2 separate regions of the Homo sapiens genome follow, and region 1 is linked to region 2. Evidence: fine-mapped expression QTL. Tissue or cell type: whole blood. Region 2 holds a variant in brackets; the other region holds the start of a gene. All regions are shown on one strand. Distances are from middle to middle.

Region 1 (11,580 bases), 30 kb after region 2:
AGCCAAAGTCCCTAATTCTGTGTATCTTATTAATAGCAGGCAAGGCATGTGAGAAAATCAAGTAACATCTTCGACCATGAAAACAGGTGTACTGCCTGTGATCACGACCCCAGCGCCCCAAGAACTCATCCGAAATCTTTAGGAAACTGTGGGCTGAGGTTACAGCTCCCTCATAAGAGAATAGGTTGGGCTGTCAAAAGAAACCTGAATCCAGAAGATTCTTGGAATCTTTGCTCGAAGAGTCTGTATACTACCGTAGCATGTCTAAGCCTTTTCATTTTGCAATTTGCAAGCATGCCCTTGTTTAGTCTTTTGGGCATGGACCAAATGCCCATATGGGACTGTGAAAAAAGTTTCAACACAATTTCAAATGAATTAAAAATTAAACAAAAAAATTAACTGTAAGAAAATATGGGTAAATATCTAACCATGGCAAATAAACACAAATCAAGACATGGACAAACATGAAATACAGATTGCAATATAAGTATTTAAAAGCTTACCTCATTCAGGGAAAAATACAAATTAAATTAACAAGAAATTATCATTTTTGCCCATAAAAATGGCAAAATGTTTTTTAACATAATGGTTAAAATGGAATTGGTAAAACCATTCTGCAAACAATTTAGCAAGGTGTATCAAAAGCCTACAGGATCCATATTCTTATTTCAAGCAAAACCACTGCTAGAATTTTTTCCCTAAGAAAACAACAAATGATATAAACAAAGATTTATGCCAAGATATTCATCACATTCTTCTTAATACCTGGAAAAAAATTAAGACAATCAAAATGTTTAATCATGGGGCATATTAAAATGCATTAGAGGACACCCACAAAATGAAATATTATGCCAACATGAAAAATGGTATCCTTAAAGATTTTTTAACAATATGAAAAAATACTCAACATATCAATTTAAGTATATAAACAATATTAAAGGATTTTTTGTATTATTTCAGTTTAGTTTTTAAGTAGTAGGCATAGAGACCGAAAGAAAATATGCTGCAATATTAATTAGTTATCACAGATAGTTTTTGTTTCTTTTTTTTTTTTTTCTTGGTATTTCCCAAATTTTCAACAATGAATATGTACCACTTTTCTAATCTGAAAAGCCACCAAATTCAAAAAAGTATATTATCAAGTTTAAAACTCTAAAATGTAGAAATTACATCAGTATTGCATTTTGTGAACTTTTCTGGGTCTTTAGACGTTGTTCAGATAACTACATTTTTTGAGGTGATGCTATTTTTTTATGATAGGCTATAAACTACATTCACACTGCATCTTTATTCCAAATGCAGAAACTATAACAAGAATATAACTGGACCAACTCTAATTTTCCCATAATCAGATAAGAAATCAACTCTAGACATGACTTCTTGGAGGCAAAACTAGTTTTCCTAGAAGAATTGCTTCATTGCAGCCCTTCTGATGTTGAGGGAAGGGCTTGTGTACAGAACATCCTCCTGGGTTACATCCCCAGCCTCATTCTGACACTGACCCCTGGGCAGCCGCTGGCTGGATCACTCTTCTAGCTAGAGTTGTTCTTTTCTATTTTGGAACTTCCTTTCATTAGAACTAAATCTTACGGGTCACATAGCCATTTGCAACTCCTTTCCTAACTCAGACTTGGAAGGTGCCCAGTTTTTCTAAGCCAAGAAGAAAAAGTTCTATGAGAATACGTAGATCGAGTTTCACCTCTGCTAGGACACTCGCCCCCACCACTCCCACCCCATTTTTGTGCTTGATCTTTGGGTGCTGTTATTTTTCTCTTGCTGACATGTCAATATGCTTTTGTTCTCATGGGTTTCTACATAGCACTTTCATGTCTGTCATCTCCACAACACAAGTTTCTGAAGCTGCTTCCTTCTTTCTCCTTCTTTTAGATCTTCATAATGTTGAGGACTTCATTCTGTATATGGTACACATGCAATCAACGGTTCATTATTGATATGTTTCTCAGCATTCCCTCTAGAGTTTATGCTTTCTCAAAATTGCATGACTATTCATTCACACAAGGGCTACGACCTGCCCTTTCCTTACCTGCACTTGTGCACTGCATTTGTGGTGGGCGTTTTGATAGGCAGTAGTAGGTCCTTTGTGTAGGCTGCACTGAGAGTCAGGGTGTCACCATCGCAGGTCAGGGAAATCAGGACCAGGCGAGGTTCCTGGCGAGCAGTAACCATGTTTCCCTCCTGGTTGATCACAAGCCAAAACCTGCCGTTTTCAAAACACAGGATATGTGTGAACCATTATGGCAGGAAGCCAGACCCTGGAGGAGCTTCAATTAGACACTGTTGTCATCTTTGATTTCTTCCCCATAAGCCTGGTGTGTGTGAGTTTGAGTGTGTGTGTCTGTCTGTCCTAAACATCAGCACACAGGACTGAGTCTGTCACTTAATTTCAAAGGATTTCATAACCACTCAAGCATCCAACATATATCTGGAGAACAGTTTGAGCTCTTTGATGGCACAGAAATCAAAGATGTTAATTATATTTTCATCTCAATCTCTAGAAAGCCTGATCACTTTCATTAAACATGCCCCAAGCAGATGACAAGAATCTATTTTACATGAAGACCTCAAAGGCAGGAGGAAGCACAGGGCCTGGCATCTGGTAGGCAACGGGCTCTTGTCAGTGGAAATAGCAGGACTGTTGCTTATATTGTTCACAGGGCATGGAGTTCAGCTGAGCAACACACAGTGCCACTTATACTCTGCCAGTTCCAGCCCCCCACCTTTTAAAAATTTTATGTTCCAACATTCAGTGCTGTCCATTCTGCAATTTGCTAAACTAGACAGTATTTTTTTCTTCTGGCCCAGTATTCCTGGTCTACAGGTACTTCCTAGAAAAAAAGATAAATGGAGAAATAAAGGTAATAGAAAGAGCCATTTCCAGAACAAGAACAACATGTTTTTGCAGGTTATCTCTCAGCTACCAAGGAAGCAAAACATATTGGCATTTCAATCCTTACAGTACACACTGATCAAATGATTACAATTATAGAAGTGAGCATGTGCTTTTGAGATTTCCAGACATAAGAAAAAAATATGGCCGGTACTTTAGGTCGTTCAAGATATTTCTTGCATCACTTCCAGCAGGTTATCATGGTTGAGTTGTTCAGCTACACTAGAAAAATATGCTTAGTATAAGCCCTTTCCGTAACTGCCCTTTTACCAGACTTTGTTTCTGCACAGACAGAGGCCTGCCCTGACCCAAATCCTTGGGACTAGCAGGTGAATATTCTGTCTAATATTCTTCCTGGTAATGGCAGTTTACATCGCTCTAAAATGCAAATCTAACTTTATGACCCCCTCATTCAAAATCCCTCCATGGTTCCTGCTTTCAGGATAAAACCAACTCCTAAACAAGGGCGTGCCCAGCCCTTCATGATCCAGCTGTTGCTCCAGCCATTCTTACCTCCCGAGGTCTTCACACAGGCCAGTCTTTTATATATTTATTTTTTAATTGCAGTAAAATATATATAAAACATAAAATACCTAGCACACTCCTACGTATAGACCCCAAAGAACTGAAAACAGGAACTCAAACAGACATTTGTGTATCAATGTTTATTGCAGCTTTAATCAAAATGCTGAAAAAGTAGTAACAGCCCGAGTGTCCATCAACAGAGAATGGAATTTTTTAAATGTGATTTTAACCATTTTGAAGTGTGCAATTCAGTGGCAGTAAAGTACATTCACAGTGTTGTGCAACCATCACCACTATTTGCAAAACCTTTTCATCACCCCAAACAGAAACTCTGTACCAATTAAGCAATAACTCCTCGTTTTCCCCTTCCCCCAGCCCCCAGTAACATCTAATCCACTTTGTCTCTATAAATTTATCCACTAGACATTTCATATAATTGGAATTATGCAATATTTGTCCTTTTGTGTCTAGCTTATTTCAATTAGTATTATGTTTTCCAGGGCCATCCATGTTGTAGCACATATCAGAACTTCATTCCTTTTCATGGCTGAATAATATTCCATTGTGTGTATATACCACATTTTGCTTATCTACTCATCCATCAATGGACACTTAGTTGTTTCCACCTTTTGGCTACTGTGAATAACATCATAATGAACATTCAACACTCAATGCTGCAAAGAACATTCATCCTATTTATGTCCCAGTTCCTTTTGGTAAATACCTTAGAGTAAGCTTGTCCAACCCGTGGCCCAGGACAGCTTTGAATGAGGCCCAACACAAATTCATAAACTTTCTTAAAACATTATGAGATTTTTTTTGTTTTTGTTTTTGTTTTTGCTCATCAGCTGTTGTTAGTGTTAGTGTATTTTATGTGTGGCCCAAGACAATTCTTCTTCCAATGTGGCCCAGGGAAGCCAAAAGATTGGACCCCTCTGGCATTGACTATGCCAGCCTTTCCCCTAGCATACCCCATCCTCACAAGCCGAGTGTCTTTGCCCAGCTTATTCCCTCTCTAGAAAGTTCTTCTCCCAATTTACTTGCCCAGCAAGTTCTGAATCGTTTTCCAGTTTTCAGCTCAAGCTGTTACTTTCTCTCTGATGTTGTCCCTGACGGCCCCAGCCAGCTTCCAGCACTGCATCCTCTATGCTGGCACCCTGGCACGTGTCGCATCCTCTATGCTGGCACCCTGGCACGTGTCACAACCTCTGTTTAGTCTAGTCACAACCTAGGACTGTAAGCCAGTGTTGGCTTCTTTTGATCACACTTTCTGGGAGTGTGTGATGAACGAAAATAAAGAATTTATCATAGTGTCTGGTACAAAGGCCAGCTCTTCTTGTCATCTATTGTAATATGAGCTCAAAAACTGCTTTTTGAATCTAAGTAGTAAAATTCCAGTGCCCTTTGCCTCTGGGGCCTACAAAAACTCTACCACTTTTCAGAGCCTACTATACGAAACATGGATTTTTTTTTTTTTTGAGACTTAGTCTCACTCTGTCGCTCAGACTGGAGTGCAGTGGCGAGATCTCTGCCACAGTGGAGCTCTGCAAGCTCCGCCTCCCGGGTTCACGCCATTCTCCTGCCTCAGTCTCCCGAGTAGCTGGGACTACAGGCGCCCACCACCAAGCCCGGCTAATTTTTTGTATTTTTTAGTAGAGAAGGGGTTTCACCCTGTTAGCCAGGATGGTCTCAATCTCCTGACCTTGTGATCCACCCGCCTCGGCCTCCCAAAGTGCTGGGATTACAGAAGTGAGCCACCGCGCCTGGCCCAAAACATGGAATATTTAGGATTCTTGGCTTCCTTCCTGAAGCAAAGATGCATACGTCACTCACCTTTCAACTATGTCATGAATTGCCCTCTGTCTGGGGAGCTGGTAGGAGAAAGGTTACAGCTCCCATTAGTCCTGTGTTACTTGCTGAACTGCGAGGGCTGCTCTGGAAAGGAGTTTCAAGTGCAGCCTCACAATAAGACCCGAGGCTGGCCTGAAGCCAGACCCTAAAGAGGACAAAGCTGCCGGCTCCCGGGTTTTGCAGCCTTCGCTGAACCCCAGGAATCCACGCAGCTCTCAGAACCCAGACAGGACATTAACAAAGTCACTCTTTACAAAGCCCCAGTGTGCTAAAGAAAATAAGAGTCCTGGTTCTGCTGCTGTGTGGCTCTGAATTCAACTTCTTTATCCACAAGAGTGCTTGAGAGCATTGGAGAGAATTGGGGAAAATAGCATCTGCAATGCCCCCACAACTCTTTCTTTCTTTCTTTCTTTTTTTGATTCGGAGTCTCGCTCTGTTGCCCAGGCTGGAGTGCAGTGGCGCAATCCTGGCTCACTGCAACTTCCACCTCCCGGGTTCAAGCTATTCTCCTGCCTCAGCCTCCTGAGTAGCTGGGATTACAGGTGCGCGCCACTACGCCCGGCTAATTTTTGTTTTTTTGTTTGTTTGTTTGTTTTTAGTAGAGACGCGGTTTCACCATGTTGGTCAGGCTGGTCTCGAACTCCTGACCTCAGGTAATGCACCCGCCTCGGCCTCCCAAAGTGCTGGGATTACAAGCGTGAGCCACCGCGCCCGAAGGTATTCGTTGAACTGCTGTCATTACTATTATGAGCTCCGCCTTGGTGCGCTCTTGGAGGGCTGGACTCTACAGTTCAGCTTTCTCCAAGATCTCAAGAAAGTCACTCAAAATAGCGACTGGGAACCAACCTCTTCAAGCTAGCCGCCTCCACTAAATGGAGATTAAGAAGTTTGCTCACTGGCAGACACCTGGGAGCGATACCACACCTCAGCAGGAGCACATGACGCCAAAGAGCCAGTGGGAGGTGGAGATCCGCCCACCCCGGGAAAACGGGTCCACGCGCTCAGAGTCCCAGAGCCCTGGGGTCTGATGCTGGGGGGTGAGGGTTCCTTTTTCTCTTTGGCCTTGTCTCACCCAACTCCCAGTTTCTTTGTAATAGGAGGAAGGACCTGTTAGCAGACTCTGCAGACCTCCCCTGCGCTCCTCCCTTCTCACCCCCTTGCCCCGAGCCGGATCAGCGCTGCCCCGCGCCGGCGCTTGGCCGTACCTGTCCCGCAGGTTGCCGCTGCGCAGCCCCATGGCCGTGCACTCCGCCTCGCTCACCGGCACCCCCTTGCAGGATTTCACAGGGTAGATCCAGAGCTGCGCCACTGTGCCCACCTGCTGCAGCAGCCGCCGGCGCCGCGTGGGCCATGCGCGGCGCCAGGCGACAGCCCCCAGCGCCACCGCGGTCAGGCCCAGCGCGGCAACCCCGAGCCACCCGGGCCGGGATTGCGCGAGGAGGACAAAGCGCGCCAGCGCGGAGGAGCCGGCGGCGCCCATGGCTGGCTTCTCCGCGAGGTGGCGGCGGCAAGGCCGGAGCGCGCTGGTCGCCCGGGGCCGCTGGGGGAAGGTGCGGCCTTTGGCCCCGAGCCCAAAGGCTGGGCAGCTCCTGAACCCTTCCGGGCCAATCAGAGCAGTGCGTCCTTCTGGGGGGCGGCGCGGGGAGTGGGAGGTGGTGGCTCAGCTTCCACTTGGTCGGCGCCCCACTGCCTCTGCAACCTTCCGTCGCCTGCGCTGCAGGGCGCTGTGCCCTCCCCCACCCCACGATCGCTGCAAGTGACCAATTTATTTACTTACGTATTTATGGGGTTATTTGACCTAAAATAAACAATATACAACATTTGCAGGACAAAGCGTGATTTTGAAATTAGAAATCAGACAGCTGGCAGCAGCCTCTCCTGGGAATAGTGGAGAGCTGGTAGGCCCTGCCTGGCCTGTGCAGTGTCCAGCTCTCTGCTGCCGCCGCCCTCCCCTCAGTCTGCCCAGGGGCTAGGAGCTTCCAGAGAGTGGGGGTCTGATGAAGGAGGATGCTACCAGGCCCTCCGCGCCGGCGAGCCAAGGCCAGAGTTCTCCCGGCGGCCCCTGGGAGCGGCAATGGGCGTCTGAGAGTGCCTTCTACACGGCTCGGGGACGCTCGACTCCTACCGGCGGGGAGCCTCGAGCTGGAGCTGCATTGGCAAGGGCCTTGGCTCAGTTTAACGCTGCACAAGGTCCCCGGGCTGCTTCCGGCGGGAGGGAAAGTCACTTGGTCCTGCAGGCACTCACCTCAGTCACTTGTCACTTCCAAATCAGGTTATATTCCAGACAACAATGTTAGCATACCCCGAACAGCGTGGTTTAGGAGTCAGGCTCCTGCTTGATGTACCAAGCTATTAAAGGAAAAAAATTCCCTCAGACGCTTGTTAAAAAGGTAAGGAAGACTATTCAAGGCTACTGTAACAGGGGCATCACAATAGGGGAAAGAGATTAGGCTCAACTCTGTATTACAGCAAAGACAGCTCAGGATTCATAGCCAAGGAGCGAAGTTCCTCGGGGTCAGTGAATGGAAAATCACTAAGCGGAGACATCAAGTGTAGAGGATTCTTGATAAACCCACTTAACAGGATTCTACTGAACAAGGCAAGGACTTACACACTGAGGGTGACATATGAGGAATCTGAGCAGACATCAAGGGTGATCAGATATTAAGGATGGGAGAATACTCTGGAAACTGACTAAGCAGGATTCTTGCTAAACTGGGCTCTGCAGGGAGTAGGGTGGCAAGGTCAAGGCCTCATGAAGAAAAGGGCACAGGAGAGTCCGAAGTTTGGTCAAGGAGAGTCTGTGTTATCCCCAGCTCAGCCATGGTCCCCTGAGCCAGGAGTGTACATTGCAAGACTCAGCCAGAATTGCCCATGCAGGGCAAGGGTGCATGGATGAGAAGCGGGAGTTCGCCAAGAGAAAAGAACAACACTCTTCCTCCAGCTGGCAACTCACTGCAGAGCAGTTCAGTGCTCAGGGAGGCTCTGTCTTTATTGGCCTGAACACTTATCTGTCCTGTTTTTCTGCTCTATTCTCTTCTCTTCCAACCCCAGGTCACACCTTGTCTGTAAAGGACACAGCTCAGCAGGAGGCACGACTTGATCCTCCTCGGAAAGGCAGTTCCGGGGCACCAAATGTGCGTTTCTGTTTATCTCCCTCCTGAATTCCTCTTTGAAAATTTAAGAGGAAAAAATGGCTTCCCTATTTTAATGGCTGACTTTGAAGTTCTGATTTTTCAATTTCATCACTTCCAGAATTTACCCAGGCCTACAGCTCACTTACCACTTTTACCTCACAGGGTGCGGGGAATGGTGGTGAATTTCAGTCCCAGAACCCAGCAAAGGAAAATGGAGGAGGAGGGAACAGCCACTCCTCACTGACCACTAGGAAGGCCCCTTGCGGACACTGGCCATCCTGCCACAGACAGGCCACCTGTGTGCCTGCAGCTCACAACGCCCTCGCCCCCTGCCAATGACAGAAGCCAGTGTTTGTGGAGTCAGATTGTATCTCTGGAGGCAATCAGAAAGGGTAAGGAAAAATAAATTGCAGTGACTCAAATTCTAATATAAAGAGAAAAACCCAGGAAGAAGACTCATAAATACCAAAGATAAAGCAGGATTGAGATTCACATTTATTATTTACAAAGAAACCATAAAATTGTAAGTAGGTGAATTCATCCACATACTATTTCAGTGAGTATTTTTGCTTAAGATCATACCAAAGTTGTTCGTTTCTTTGTTACGAAAAAATTATTTGCACTGAAAAAAATATGTTCATGCTGTCTTCCTTGCATTCCTACTCTCAAAATTCCATTCTCTTTTAAATGTCATCCTCTTCCTTATCTTACTTGGAATTCCAGGTGGTATATCTGGCAGTTACACACAAACAGATTACTTTTATGTGGCTTAGTAAAGGTGTAATAGAGTACTAAAACTAAGTCTATAAGAGAATTTCCATACTCAAGTACAGCCCAGATTCCATAATGCTAGAGTAAAAAGCACATGAGTGGAAAGTCAACAGGACTCAATGGCCACATAAAGACCAATATTAGGCATTTGTGAGTGTGGTAACATGCGTCCTGCACATCAGGACACAGTGATCTGTTGCTTCCCATTTCTCCCAAAACATAGACTGATAGGTAATAAAAGGCACACATTTTAAAAACATTTTTGCAGCTTTTTAGTTGATTCATTAAACTTGCTTTATTCATCAATATTAAAGTCAGGAAGTAAAAGTGTAATAGCCATGATAACATTCAAAATAGCATTTTTGATGATCTTAATTATTTTTAAAGCCTTCAGTACCTAAAATTTATATATATACTTTCATATTCCCCCCTCTAATACTTTCCTTGCATTAACCTGGAGCATACACAACTTTGAAAAGTCAAAAATCGAGATTGTTTTCCAGGGTAAAGATAGTTGAAGGCTGGATAATAAGGATTTGCTGATGTATCGTTGCTGCTGTTGTTAAGATCTCAGTCAATCCCTCCTGGTTGCTGAAGCCTGAATAAATAATAAGAATCTCTGGTTATTTGGTTGTTTATCCTACTGTTCATAAATAATTCAAACTCCCACAAAACAGTCACTTATTGAGGTTACACATATAAATGTATGGTGCAGTGCTGTGCAGAAAGCATGGCCCATTAGCTCTAACTCACATCAGCTCCCAGGCCCTACGTCAGCTGACCTATCTAAGCCTTTGTTTCTCATCCATAAAGTGCCTGTTATCATATCTATCTCACAGAGATCCTCTCACAGATAAAGATTACACAAGGCCTTCTGGGCAGCAGAGACAATTGGAAATTGAGGCTGAGTGAACCACAGATGTTTGTTGCCTCCATCCACTGCAAAACAGGATCTGATTGGATGAGTTTGTGACGGAGTGATATGGAAAACCCTCAATCGTTATGGTATCTCACAGCCATTGGGCTCCCTCAGATGCAGAGAACACATGAAAGCCCTTGGCTCACACAATGATCCAGGTCCAGTCAATCATGACTGGAACAGCAGGACACAGGATCAGTTTCACTCAAGCTAGATGGCTCAGGCTTGGGTCCACTCTCCCCAAATGGGGCTTTTAGAAATGCCAGGTACTTAGGAGCTTCACAGTTTCCCCTCTAGTATTAATACTTATTGTATTTCATCAAATCCAAGATATACCAATTGTAAGATGCACCATTATTATATGCATCACTGATAATTTTATGCATCACTGATATTTTTCAAAAGGCATCCTGAATGTTATAAGAAGCTGACTGATATCAGAGATGTTAGAATAGGATCTCAGAACGGATGAAATATGTTATGAAATATGGTTATGGTTATGCAAATACCTAGTCATAACAGTCATCAATAGAAGTGTAGCTCCTTTTTGCCCACCTCAAAGGCAAAGCCTGTGTCATCTTTATACCCACTATGGAACCTAAGACTGGATCATGATGGAATGATGGCAATAAAAAACATAACTGATATTTACTGAGCACTTTATTTGTGTTGCAGCGCAACTTTATATGAATTAATACTCAAGATAACTTTTATTGCTTGTTTTGGTAAGTACTATTATTCCCACTTTGCAGATAAGGGTACTGAGACTTAAAGAGAAGTTAAACATCTCAACCAAGTTAGGAAGATGCTTGGATTACAAACCCAAGTCTATCTAATGCTAGATCTACACCTTCTAAGCCACTGTGTTACACTGTCCTTAAGGAGGGTCAGGTTGTGGGTGTCAAGACTACAAAGGCAAGTAACACACGTGAGAAGCTCAGGCCAGAATCAGAGAGAAGGATGGTCAAGAGTTTTGGAGATGAGGTAACTTAAAGAACTGGGTCATGGATTTTATGAGAAAACTTGCTTAAAATCTCCAATTTGAGGTCCTCTGTCCAACTTTCTCATTCCTTTAATTTGGGAGTTAGGCTTTTGCCTCCAGGAGTGAGGGCTGTATTGGACACAATGAAATCAATGTGAGAACATTATTTTCTAACTCATGATTCAGGACCCAGTCACCATGATGCACTGATTTTTTTTCAAACTTCAATTATACTTTAAAAATACATTTGATAAAAGACATTCAATTTAAACATTTCCCAAGCTGATGTTGAATAATTTAAACATTTTCCCTTCTATCTGAGACAGAAAAAATAAATACATAACTCTGAGAATGTACATAACTCTGAGAATCAATCACCTTCATTTCCCTATTCCTTAATGATATTCTGTAATGAGCTGTGAACATATACCTGTCTTTCTGCTGAGCCTCTTCCATCAGCATTTTACCATTAAATGGGAAATAGGGG
Region 2 (11,580 bases):
ATAAGGAAATTAAATTTTCTTACAAAACATGCTTTCTCATTTACTCCCCCACACATGCATGCACACACGGTCATTTGTTACATGATATGTGGACAATCGTTAAGCCCCAAGCATTGCCTCTGCTTGGCTGACAAATTCAGGATTCGTTAATGATGTGGTCATTGACTTTGTTGCGTGGAGGCTCAGGTTGTGGGTTTGGTGCCTTCAGAGCTTCACTCCCTTTCAGGGCATACACGATCCTCTGCTGCATCCAAAAGTGGGGCTGTGGTCCCCTGAGGGCTGGGGGAGGTGTGTTTGGATCAGTGTGACCCCATCACTCAAAATGAGCACATCCATGCTTAACCATGAAGTAGTCTAATGGGTTCCATTTTTCTCAGAAAGCCAGAATTTGTTCCTCCAGTATTTCTTTACATACCACTAAGAAGAATGTCAACATTAATGTGGGGTGAGTAGGAGTGATGGAAACTTGGTCTACAGAAAATCAAGTAAAAGTTTTGAAGAGCTTGGAGTCTTTATAAAAATGAGAATTTCTAGGTTCCATTGCAGAACTACTAAATCAGGATATCTGAGAATCTGACACAGGAATCTACCCATGGTTCACAGGTGATACAAATACACACACCAGTCTTAAAGGTCCTTTCAGTAAGTCATAAGCAATTGTTTTAAAACAAGATTGTAGGATCAAACCAGTTTCCGGATGAAGGTACTACCACACTTTGAATTCATTCTTGCCAACTTATTTTGTAGCATTGCCAGAAGGCACAAGCCTTGAGTTCTAACTCTAGCCCATCACCTATAATGTGGACAAGTTAGTTAACCTCCCCAAAGCTCAGTGACATGCGTTATGCATTCAGAAGAAGAATGATGATACGTAAGCAGCTTACAAAAGACTTTCACATCTATCCTACCTCACTGGGTCATCAGCAAGATCTAATCATATAGAGTGGATGAAGGTGCACTGCAGGTTTCATGGCACTTTACAAATGCAAGGTACACTGGGTTTTGTTTGCAGGTTTTAGTTTTGTTTTGTTTTGTTTTGAGATCAAAATATCTGCTTTTTTTCTGATAGAAATTCCATTGCTTTTGTATTCCTAAACTACATCCTCCAGCCTAGGTTTTATCAATAATACTGAATCCCAATATTGAATTTATCTCCCCAGCCTTGCACAAAACTGGAGAACTACAGGTATCTCCCAACTAGGGAAGGGTCTTTTCTGCCAAAATCACCACTTGGACCAAAGGGACCAGGGTCCTAGCACCTTGAAGGCAGCAAGAGCCCAAGTAGAAAAGAGAAGGAGAAAGAGCAGAGCTCAAACTCACTGCTTCCAAATTTACCAATCAGATCTCCCCCAAACAAGAGAGTGTGAGGAGGCAGAGAGGGGCCAAGACTAAGGAATGTCTCTTCATTTGGACATACGAGGGATGAGTGTGATTATAACACATTTATTGTAGCTAAGTTATCTGTATCCCCAAATTCCTCAATTTTTTGTTCTTTGAGCCCATTGTGCTTACACATTATACCCAGTCATATATAGGTATATATATTATAGGGATAGCATCTTCAGAGAGGGAATAAACTCCTACCCCCATCTCCAGTGTCACTTCCATGTAGATCTTTCTAGAAAGGTACTGTGTGTTTTTGCCCCATAAGGTTCTGAGATGGGCCAGTACAGTACATTGTGTTCTTCAAGGCCTTTCTGTAGTCAAGATAAAAATTGTCGATCCTTTTCTATTTTCCATCTCAAATTATGTCCAGACATCACACTGCCCAACAGAACCTATCAGAGACTGTGCAGCAAAATCAAGTGATATCACAAAGGTACCTCAACAATAAAATGACAATAAGATGCTCTAGATTTGAACATAAACCCCTCTAACACCAAATTACCAAGGAGTCTGAAGTCCAAAATTAAATTCCAAGTTAAGGGCCAAAAAAGGCAAAATGAGAAATTAAAATCTGAAGTTAAATCATCTCACTCTCAAGTTCAAAAACATTACATTGCAATTTCTTATTCTTTTTGGTGTCAGCAAGAAGAGTTCTGAATGGGCTGCGTGGGATCGGTGTTCTTTCAGCAGCAGTAGCCTAGGATGCCTTTCCAGGAAGGGACTTTAGAGTTGGGATTAACGCAACTCCAAGTCTCTGAAGTGTTGTACCATTTTAAGTTATTTTTTAATTGTGGTAAAATATATGTAACATAAAATGTACCACCATAACCTCCTTTTTTATTCTTTTAAAGACAGGGCCTCACTCTACCACCCAGGCTGGAGTGCAGTGGTGTGATCATAGCTCGCTGTAACTGTGAACTCCTTGGCTCAAGCTATCCACCCACCTCAACCTTCCAAGTAGCTAGGGCTAAAGGCATGCGCCACCATGCCTGGCTAATACTTTCATTTTTTGTAGACATAGGGTCTCACTATGTTGCCCAGGCTGGTCTTGAACTCCTGGCCTCAAGTGATCCTCTTGCCTTGGCCACCATAACCATTTTTTTTTAAGTGTACAGTTCAGGAGTATTAAGCACGTTCACTTTGTTTTGCAACCAATCTCTGGAATTCTTTTCATCTTGCAAAACTGAAACACTATACCCATGAAACAACTACTCCTCATTCTCCATTCCCCCATCCACTGGCAACTAGCATTCTACTTTCTGTTTCTATTTTATGTCTAGAACAGTGTGACTGCTCTAAGTACCTTATATTAATGGAATCATATAGTATTTGTCCTTATATGACTGGCTTATTTCACTTAGCATAATGTCCTCAGGGTTCATCCATGTTATAGCATGTGTCAGAATTTCTTTCCTTTTCAAGGCTGAATAATATTCCATTGTATGTATAGGCTACATTTTGTTTATCCATTCATCTGTCAGTGGACATGGGCTATTTCCATTTTTTTTTCTTTTACTATTGTAAATAACGCTGCTATGAAAATGGGTGCGTGTACCTCACTTTTTAAATTGCTCAAGAAGTTCAAACAACACAGGAGATGATCACAGCACAAATTTAGAAAATAATCCAGTCCCCAGTCCCAGAAAATTTATCCAGGCAAAACTCATTCCTAAAGCCCAATACTTGGTGTTGCCAAAAACGACAGCAGATTCAGAAGGGAAAATCGCTTTAGAAGATTCTTCAAAGGGAAAAAGGGTAAATGGTTTTAAATGAAGTGCTCTTCATTCATTGCCAGGTGACCATAATCCTTGGAGAGGCTAATTATGGCACCATTTTTGTTTGTTTGTTTGTTTTTTGTTGTTTTTTTTTTACCATATCTGGGGGAAATGAACTCATTCCTGTAAAGAGTCTGCTCTGACAGTAGCATTTGAGACATTACTGCTTTAAATGCATTTTCATGGTTCAAAATAATAGCACTATTAAAAAATGTTTCTTCAACAAGGATTTGTTTTCTCCCTAAGAAGCTTAATGTGGACACTACAAATAATGACCAAAGCTGCTGAGTATGGCATAACAAAGAGAAAACAAAGCACTCATCCTGTCCTCCAGATCATGCCCAGAACACTGTCTACCAACATGTGGCTTGCCAACTGGAATGATGCAAATGTCAGACCCACATCTGTGGAAAAGGGGCTCGTCCCACAGGAAACAAGCTATTGGGGAATGGGGAGAATGATATAATTAGAAATTTAAGACACAGTATAACTCAGAAAAATGTTGGCTGGGCAGCACATTGCTAAGACTTGAAATCTTTATTTTGTTCTCTTTTCAAAAGCCCTGTGAGCATAATGAGCAGAATATAGCTTTAAGAACTAAGATTCACCCCATCAGGCATTAATGGTGTCCAGAAACTATGTGAACAATCTTACTTGACATCCCCAAGACATTTATATCTGTCCAATGCAAAATCAGAGGGGGGAACATGTTAATTTTCTCAGCCTTTTGATAGCATATATACAAGATCTCTTAGCCCCACAAAAGCTCCAGATATATTCTCTAGGACTTCGACTGCCTTAAAATATAGACTTGCATTTATCTTGGCCACATTAACGAGATCTGTTTGACCAATACATTTATATTTATGATGACTGAGGGCAGATTATGGTTGTTAAAATTTGTCCTTGGGACATGAAAACACTCTTCTGTCATTAATACATTTTATAATATAAACTATGATGTCAGGTCAACATAAAGGGTAAAAACGTTCCTAAAGTATGCACACATCATTTTTTAAAGCAATTGAGCCTAATGGAATAACAAAGGTCATCATAACAAACCATTACAGCCTTGGTCTTGGCAACTCTGGCCACAGAAGAACCTCCAAGAAACGATCATCATTCCTCCAATGTTATGGCATCCAGACGACAGGAATGGCTCGCAAATGAGTCATACGGGCTCAGATCCGCGGTAGCTATGTGAGCGCTGGACGATCAATTATTCATGTGTTTACAAAGAGCTTTCCCGGTTGATGTTAACCAGAGCTGCCTGCAACGAAGAGCTCTCCAGCTGTCCTCGGCCGTCCTGGGCCTCGGACTAACAAGCGGCTTTAATTGCTGGGCAGGTCATGTGGAAGGTGCTCCTCCCTTCAACCCAGTAAATTCAATCTCTCTGAGACTTTGTTAGGTGTAAAAATGTTAATCAGAAATAATTATAACAACAATAGTTTATTTACAGTACTCCCAGTAAATTCTAAAGAGGGAGACAAAAGTTAGACTTAACTTAGTTCCCACAGGGATCCACCAGGATTGGAGACTGACCAATACCAGGTCAGGGATTGGTAGAGGGCATAACAAATGCCAGGGAAGGGGAGGGACTAGGGGTTGTGGGTTTCACAAGGAAGGTAAGAGGAAGAGCAGTCTAGGATGCTCTGTAAAGGTAAAGGAGCATGACTGAGGACCAGCAAGGGTGAATGCACTAGACTGGCCAACAAATAACCAAATGTGAGTGAATTTGACCTGCCTATCAAAAATGGCCTTGGAAGAGGCTGAATGGGAAGTCACTTCTCAGTCCTTTTTGTTACTTTACACAACCTACAGCCTGTCCAGGAAGAATAATAATGTAATTAAGGCAACTCTTCTCTCTGAGCCAGGCCACAGAGCATGGGAGCAGGTGCCCCACCACCCAATTCCTCAGCTGTGTTTGGAGGAAGAGCAGAGTTATAGTCAGAGCTGTGGCCCAAGCCTCTTCCTGTGAAGAGAGTGTGGTCAGAGCAGACCAAGGGATGCCTCAGGGACTTTTTTACTATCCCAATTCCAAGAACATCTGTGGTACCGAGCCAGATTCTTCCTCTTGCTTGAAATTGGGTAACTTTAGATATCATCATAACTCATTCATCCATTCAGAGAAAGTGGTTGAAGCAAACAATCTCTGTTCTTGCAGACAGCAAAGCACAGTAGTGCTTTGTGCAGACATAGATAGAGTCAGGGCCATAGGACTTCTGAGGTAATTCTGCTTTGTAGGGTGGAAGGCAACACTAGTTGAGAGGACTTGCAACAGAAAGGAAAAGCTAGGGCCGGGCGTGGTGGCTCACAACTGTAATCCCAGCACTTTGGGAGGCCGAGGC[G/A]GGCAGATCACGAGATCAAGAGTTCGAGACCATCCTGAACAACATGGTGAAACCCCGTCTCTACTAAAAATACAAAAATTAGCTGGGTGTGGTGGTGTGCACCTGTAGTCCCAGTGAGAGGTGAAGCCAGCTGGACTTCCTGGGTCTAGTGGGGACTTGGAGAACTTTTCTTTCTAGCTAGAGGATTATAAATGCACCAGTCAGTGTTCTGTGTCTAGCTAAAGGATTGTAAATGCACCAATCAGCACTGTAAAAACTCACCAATCGGCACTCTGTGTCTAGCTAAAGGATTGTAAATGCACCAATCAGCACTCTGTAAAATGGACCAATCAGCACTCTGTAAAATGGAGCAATCAGCAGGACATGGGCAGGGACAAATAAGGGAATAAAAGGTGGCCACCCCAGCCAGCAGCAGCAGCCCATTTGGGTCCCCTTCCGAAGCTTTGTTCTTTCGCTCTCCACAATAAATCTTGCTACTGCTCACTTTGGGTCCGTGCCACCTTTAAGAGCTGTAACACTCACTGCGAAGGTCTGTGGCTTCATTCTTGAAGTCAGCGAGACCAAGAACCCACCAGAAGGAACCAACTCCAGACACACCAGCTACTCGGGAGGCTGAGGCAGAAGAATTGCTTGAACCTGGGAGGCAGAGGCTGCAGTGAGCTGAGATCTCACCACTGCACTCCAGCCTGGCAACAGAGTGAGACACTGTCTCAAAAAAAAGAAGAAAAAAAAAAAAGAAAGGAGAAGCTAGCAGAAGAGAAACAGGGCACCCCTCCCTGGTGCATGAAGCATCCTGGAGCACTTTCATCACAGGTGGTTTTGTAACTTACATCACAGGTATTGCTGTAAGGGCAAGGTTAGAGAGAGTTTGGTTTCCCTTCCCTCACCCTGATCCACCCTATCCATCCAAAAATGCATGTTTGGAAAATGATCCCGAAGAAAGAGAGTGCTTCTCCCTAAGGCCCACAACAGGAGAGCTGGTCTAAGACACTTCTCCACACCTCCTTTAACCTATCAAGTCCCAGTTCCATCCTTTTACTCCAGCAAGAGGGGCAAGGGAGAGGACAAGGGGAAGTGTCCCAAGATAGGTCTCCTTCACTTGGCGGGAACTTTTAACTTCTTCAGTCTTCCCATGAGTGCACCCCTCCTGCTAACTGGGATTCCTTGGCTCACTGGCATTCTGCCTAGAGATCAGAGGATCATTTCTCAAAAGACAGTCAAAAACAGACCTTTGGGAAGGGCAGCATTAAACACAGATGTCTTCATGAAGGCCTCTCCAGAGCCTTTTGCCTTTGAAGAGAAGTGAGGCACGCAGGACTTTCCAAACTTACTGGTCCATGGAATTGTTTTTAGAAGCATCCCGAAAGGCAAACTTTCAGAATTCCATGGACCAATAAAACACGGGAAATGCAGTGTTAGGGTGTGGTAGCAACACTCCGATTATACCCACAATCAAGGTCTGGTCTGAGAGCCACTCTGTCATTTTCAAGGAACTTTAATGTATCTGTTCTCCACCATCATGGGTTGCTTTAATTTGATACACTCTTGGAATGCTGGGAGCACTTGCCTGGAATTTCAGCCTGCCATCACTGTTGGTGACAGCCTCATAAATGGTTTCCCGAAGTCCCATTTGGCTAGTCTAATTTACCCAACCTCCCCATGCACTCTTACCAAACTGGCAGACCCTCACAAGCTCATCTCCTCACCATGCCCCGTTATCAGTAAAGGGAGAAGGAGAGGAGGAGTATTTCTCCCTATAGGACAACGGCCTGAATTCCAACAGCCTCCCCTTCCCCAATTTCTTTCTGCCTTCGTGTGTATAAGTTGCTGCCCTCGTCTTTCGGTTGGAAGTTTCTAACATTTTCTGCAGGAGAGTCACAAAAGCAAGCCTTTAGGCAGCCCCTCCGGAGCCTGGCCCACATTGTCCTTTTCAAGACCTCCAGCTCTGAGTTTGTGACTCCCCACTGTGGCTGCAGCATAAGTTGCCACACAGAGGAGATGCCCACCGAGGGTGGATATTTTGGCCTGATCTCAAACATCTGTCATTTGCTGTTGTAAGATCTGAAAGTCTGGGATGGCCTACATTCCTGATTCTATATTTCAAGTGGAATAGTGTGCAAATGCTCAGTATCCAAAATAAATGGGATATCAGCTTTGTCTCTGGCATTAACCAACTCATTAAATATAAAATAAACACAAGTAAATGGCCTTTAAATCTCACTGACAGAAAGCTTGGCAACTACTCTGAGATTCTAGAGGTCACTGGAACTTCTCTCTTCAAACAGGAATCTTCCTCACACTGTGAGGCACAGAAGGACAGGTCTGCCCAGTGAGGAGGGTTTCTGGGTGCTCCCTTCCACGTGGGTGCTGCCCTGCAGAGCTAGCTACCCCGAGAGCCTGTCCATGGAGAATGATGGTTACTGCCCGGACGGGGCACAGAGAAGTGGCTGTTAGTTCTTACAAGTGGTTAGAAATTCAGGACTAAGGCTTTCACTTGCCACTAATTATAAATACCTAGGAAGAGCCACCAAACCTTGGGTTTCTGATTGCTCCCTACCTATTGGCTATTCCCAGAGAGCCCATATTCACATGGTTTCCTAAATCCTGTGTACACTCACTCTCCCACGGGTCCCCCGGTCCCATTAGTAATGCTACTTGCTGAACACTTCGCTTTGTCTCAATCTATCTGTAGTTTCAACATCAACTGGACTTGTTGGGGAAGGTGATGGCCCAGGTTCTCTGGAAAATTGATGTAATTATTCACCTCATGCCAAGCATGCAGAAAACAAACTGTAATAATTCACCAACCATAAAACAAGCACATGCACCTCTTTGCTCAGAACTTTACTTCAGGGCTCAGCTAGATTTCAGCGATTACTGACCTCTTTTATAAAATCAAAGTGAAAAATGTGCAGCTTTTGGTAAAAAGCATGTTGACTTGATAGTCCTTCAAACATGGGTGCTTGCCTGGGAGGCTGTGGGTGAGGAGGTCCATTATGCAGAAGACCCAGCTGTGGTCAGGTGTCAGAATTACTGGCTTTGCCCATTCACCTCAGTCAGCTTTCTTTTTTTTTCCTGTTTCTTTTTTAGAGATAGGGTCTCACTCTATCACTCAGGCTGGAGTGTAGTGGTGCAATCATAACTCACTGCAGCCTCAATCTCCCGCTCCTGGGCTCAACCAATCCTTCTACCTCATCCTCCCGAGTAGCCATAGCCAGGACTGCAGGCACACACCACCACACCGAGTGCATTTTAAAAACATTTTGTAGCGACAGGATCCCATTATATTTTCTGGGCTGGTCTCAAACTCCTGGGCTCAAGCCATTCTCCCACCTTGGCCTCCCAAAGTGCTGGAATTACAGGCATGAGCCCCTGTGCCCAGCCTCAGTCAGCTTTCACAGTCTAACTTTGTGCCAAGAAGTTAGTAAGATCTGAAACTAGTCAAAGTAGCTTCCATTTATTCACAGTTTTAAAAACATTTTTCAAGTTTAGTCAACTTCCCAATATAATCAAAGGACAAAATGGCAATAAAAAATATACTTCATCAGATCTTAGAGTTATACAATCAGTTAAAAAATAGATATTGGGTTTTAAACAACTGACATATGCTTTCCTTTTCCCCCTTTAAAGGTTTTCAGTAGTCTATCTGAAATCACTGAATCACTTTTCTTCTCCTCCACAGAATTCAGAACTTTTTCACCCGGAACTGGAGAAGGAGCACTCCGTCATTAGCTGAGGGGAATGGCAAGGATCCAGGGGTCCTCCATGACTACACAACCATCCTCCTGAGCACCTTTAGGAAATCCAATGCTGTCTGAGAAGCAGCAGGGCCAGATCCAGATCTATGGAAAATTAATATCTGCAGTGCTTCCTGAAGGTCACCTCAGTCTTTATGCCATTTCAAAAGCTAGCCCGGGGCTTGAGAAGAAAAGGGAAGTGGCATTCCAGCCATATTTGGGGTGCAATTTAATTTTCATTGCGTACCTCATGAACAGGGGCAATAACACATTCTAGGATATTCTTCCAGCCCACCCACTCTTCCTCTTTCTCTTCTTCTCTTTCTCTAACGAGTGGTAGTGACAGGATGCAAGTCTGCGCTCTTGGTAGATAAACGGAGAAGCAGGAGAAAGAACTATTCCATAATCAGTTAAACGGGGAGTTTTCAGAATCCTGTCTTGTCATTTAAGTGACTTACTGAAGTCCTACTAAGTTATTGAGACTATATTTCTTTACTTTTTGCACTGGGACATTGAAGCATTGAGACACCAGAAGTCCAAAAGACGAAAAATGTGAAAATCACAAATTTAAAGAAAATGTAGAGGTCTCAGTTCTGAAACACCATGCTTCAAGTGTTGTCATTTTTGAGAACATTTTTAAAAGGCATCTAATATTCCAGGACATACGGTTCCCATTACTGGCCCAGCAGGTACACAGGGTCTCCCACTTTGATGGTCCCTGGGTTTTCCAGCACAAAATACTGCCCAAAGAGTGGTGATTTTCCATATAACTTTCGTTCTGAAGGGTCACACTGGCGATAACTGCAATAGGAAAAGATCATGATGAGTCACAGCCAAGCGGATGCAAGAGCTCAACCAGCACGTGGCTTCCATCCCACACAGGGCCTCCGCACGCACAGCTCGAGAGGGCACCATCCCGTCAAAGCTCAACAGAACAGCGCCTCCTGGAGTGGGGCAGTGAACAGCCTGCCCAGCAAACAACGACAGAAGCATAAGCAATGGCCACATCCCCACATCTTTTCTCTACCTTCATGTTCCCCCTTTCGGCATTAAGACGTTAGATACTTGGCCAGGTGTGGTGGCTCATGCCTGTAATCCCAGCACTTTGGGAGGCCGAGGCTGGCAGATCACAACCAGGATGGAGATCAAGACCATCCTGACTAACACGGTGAAACCTCATCTCTACTAAAAATACAAAAAATTAGCCAGGAGTGGTGGCAGGTGCCTGTAGTCCCAGCTACTCGGGAGGCTGAGGTGGGAGAATGGCATCAACTTGGGAGGCGGAGCTTGCAGTGAGCGGAGATTGTGCCACTGCGCTCCAGCCTGGGCAATGGAGCAAGACTCCGTCTCAAAAAAAAAAAAAATTAGATACTCAATGTGTCTAGACATACTTTATCATCTTCCTTTGCCCTAGGCATCTTTCCTCCTGTCTCCTCCATGTCTGTCACCTGAACCACCATCCTAGCCGTCACTTGGGCTGGGAGCCCATCCTTTACACCACTGTCCTCTCTTCCCACAGCCTGTCCGCAGCTGCCGAGTTCCAAGGTTCTTCCTGTACAACATCATTTGACTTGGCTTGCTTTTCCTCATTCCGACTGTCACGATCTTGCTTCCAGCATGCTCAGACTATCATAATAACTTCTTAACCAACCTCTTTTCCTCATTCTCTACCTGTTTTCAATTCATTGTTGACACTGCACTATATCACTGTTTTAATTGTGTTCTGGTCTTATCATTCCTAGGCTCACAAACCTTCCGTGGCTCTCCAGTGCCTAAAGAATAACATTCCAACTATTCAGCCTGGTATGTAGGGCTCTACCTGGCCCCAGCCTGCTTTTTCAGACCTGTTGCCATCTGCTCCTTACCTGTGCCTCTGCAGCTCTCTGCTGGATTTCACCTTGCTTTGCATTGTACTGACTCGGTAAGTCCTCTGTGATTCCTGTGGGATGCTCCTCCTCCAGGTCCCCATGCTTTAGAATTGTACCTGCCTCAAGGCCCAAATCAAACACCACATCTCCCAGGAAGGAAGCCCAGGTTCCCCCAGCTACGAGTAATTCCCCCTCCTCAATTCTCTTTGCCCCTCCAATACTCACACATCTTGTCCTGTAATGTCAGGGCACAAGTTTGTCTGTTCTACAAGGCAGAGTCCCTGGAGAACAGGAACTGTGATTAATGCCCTTGTACTGCTCACGCCCAATGCCGGGCCTCCTACATCACCTGTGACCCACCATTGTTTGCTGGCTGGATTAGTATGCTCATGAGTAAAACCGTCTGTCAGAGGCAGTATAAATATGAATATTTTTGTCCAGCAGAAAATTAAAGAAGACGCAGGGA

Evidence for each region.
Region 1: MTARC1 starts here. The variant in region 2 is fine-mapped to the expression of MTARC1 in whole blood (TOPMed, PIP above 0.99).

What each region holds. Positions count from the first base shown.
Region 1 is chr1:220,782,129-220,793,708 of GRCh38, reverse strand. It overlaps MTARC1 (mitochondrial amidoxime reducing component 1), which reads right to left and starts at 6,796. Exons shown (of 7, transcript NM_022746.4): 1 at 6,490-6,796; 2 at 2,045-2,218. The coding sequence starts at 6,764. MTARC2 (mitochondrial amidoxime reducing component 2) reads right to left here. Exons shown (of 8, transcript NM_017898.5): 8 at 8,894-9,790.
Region 2 is chr1:220,811,759-220,823,338 of GRCh38, reverse strand. MTARC1 (mitochondrial amidoxime reducing component 1) reads right to left here. Exons shown (of 7, transcript NM_022746.4): 7 at 3,680-10,047. The coding sequence ends at 9,921. Among named protein-coding and RNA genes, the nearest start is that of LINC01352, 12 kb to the left of the region's middle. RefSeq lists enhancers at 4,119-4,810, 9,423-10,622. The variant G/A (reference allele first, on the strand shown) is at 5,510.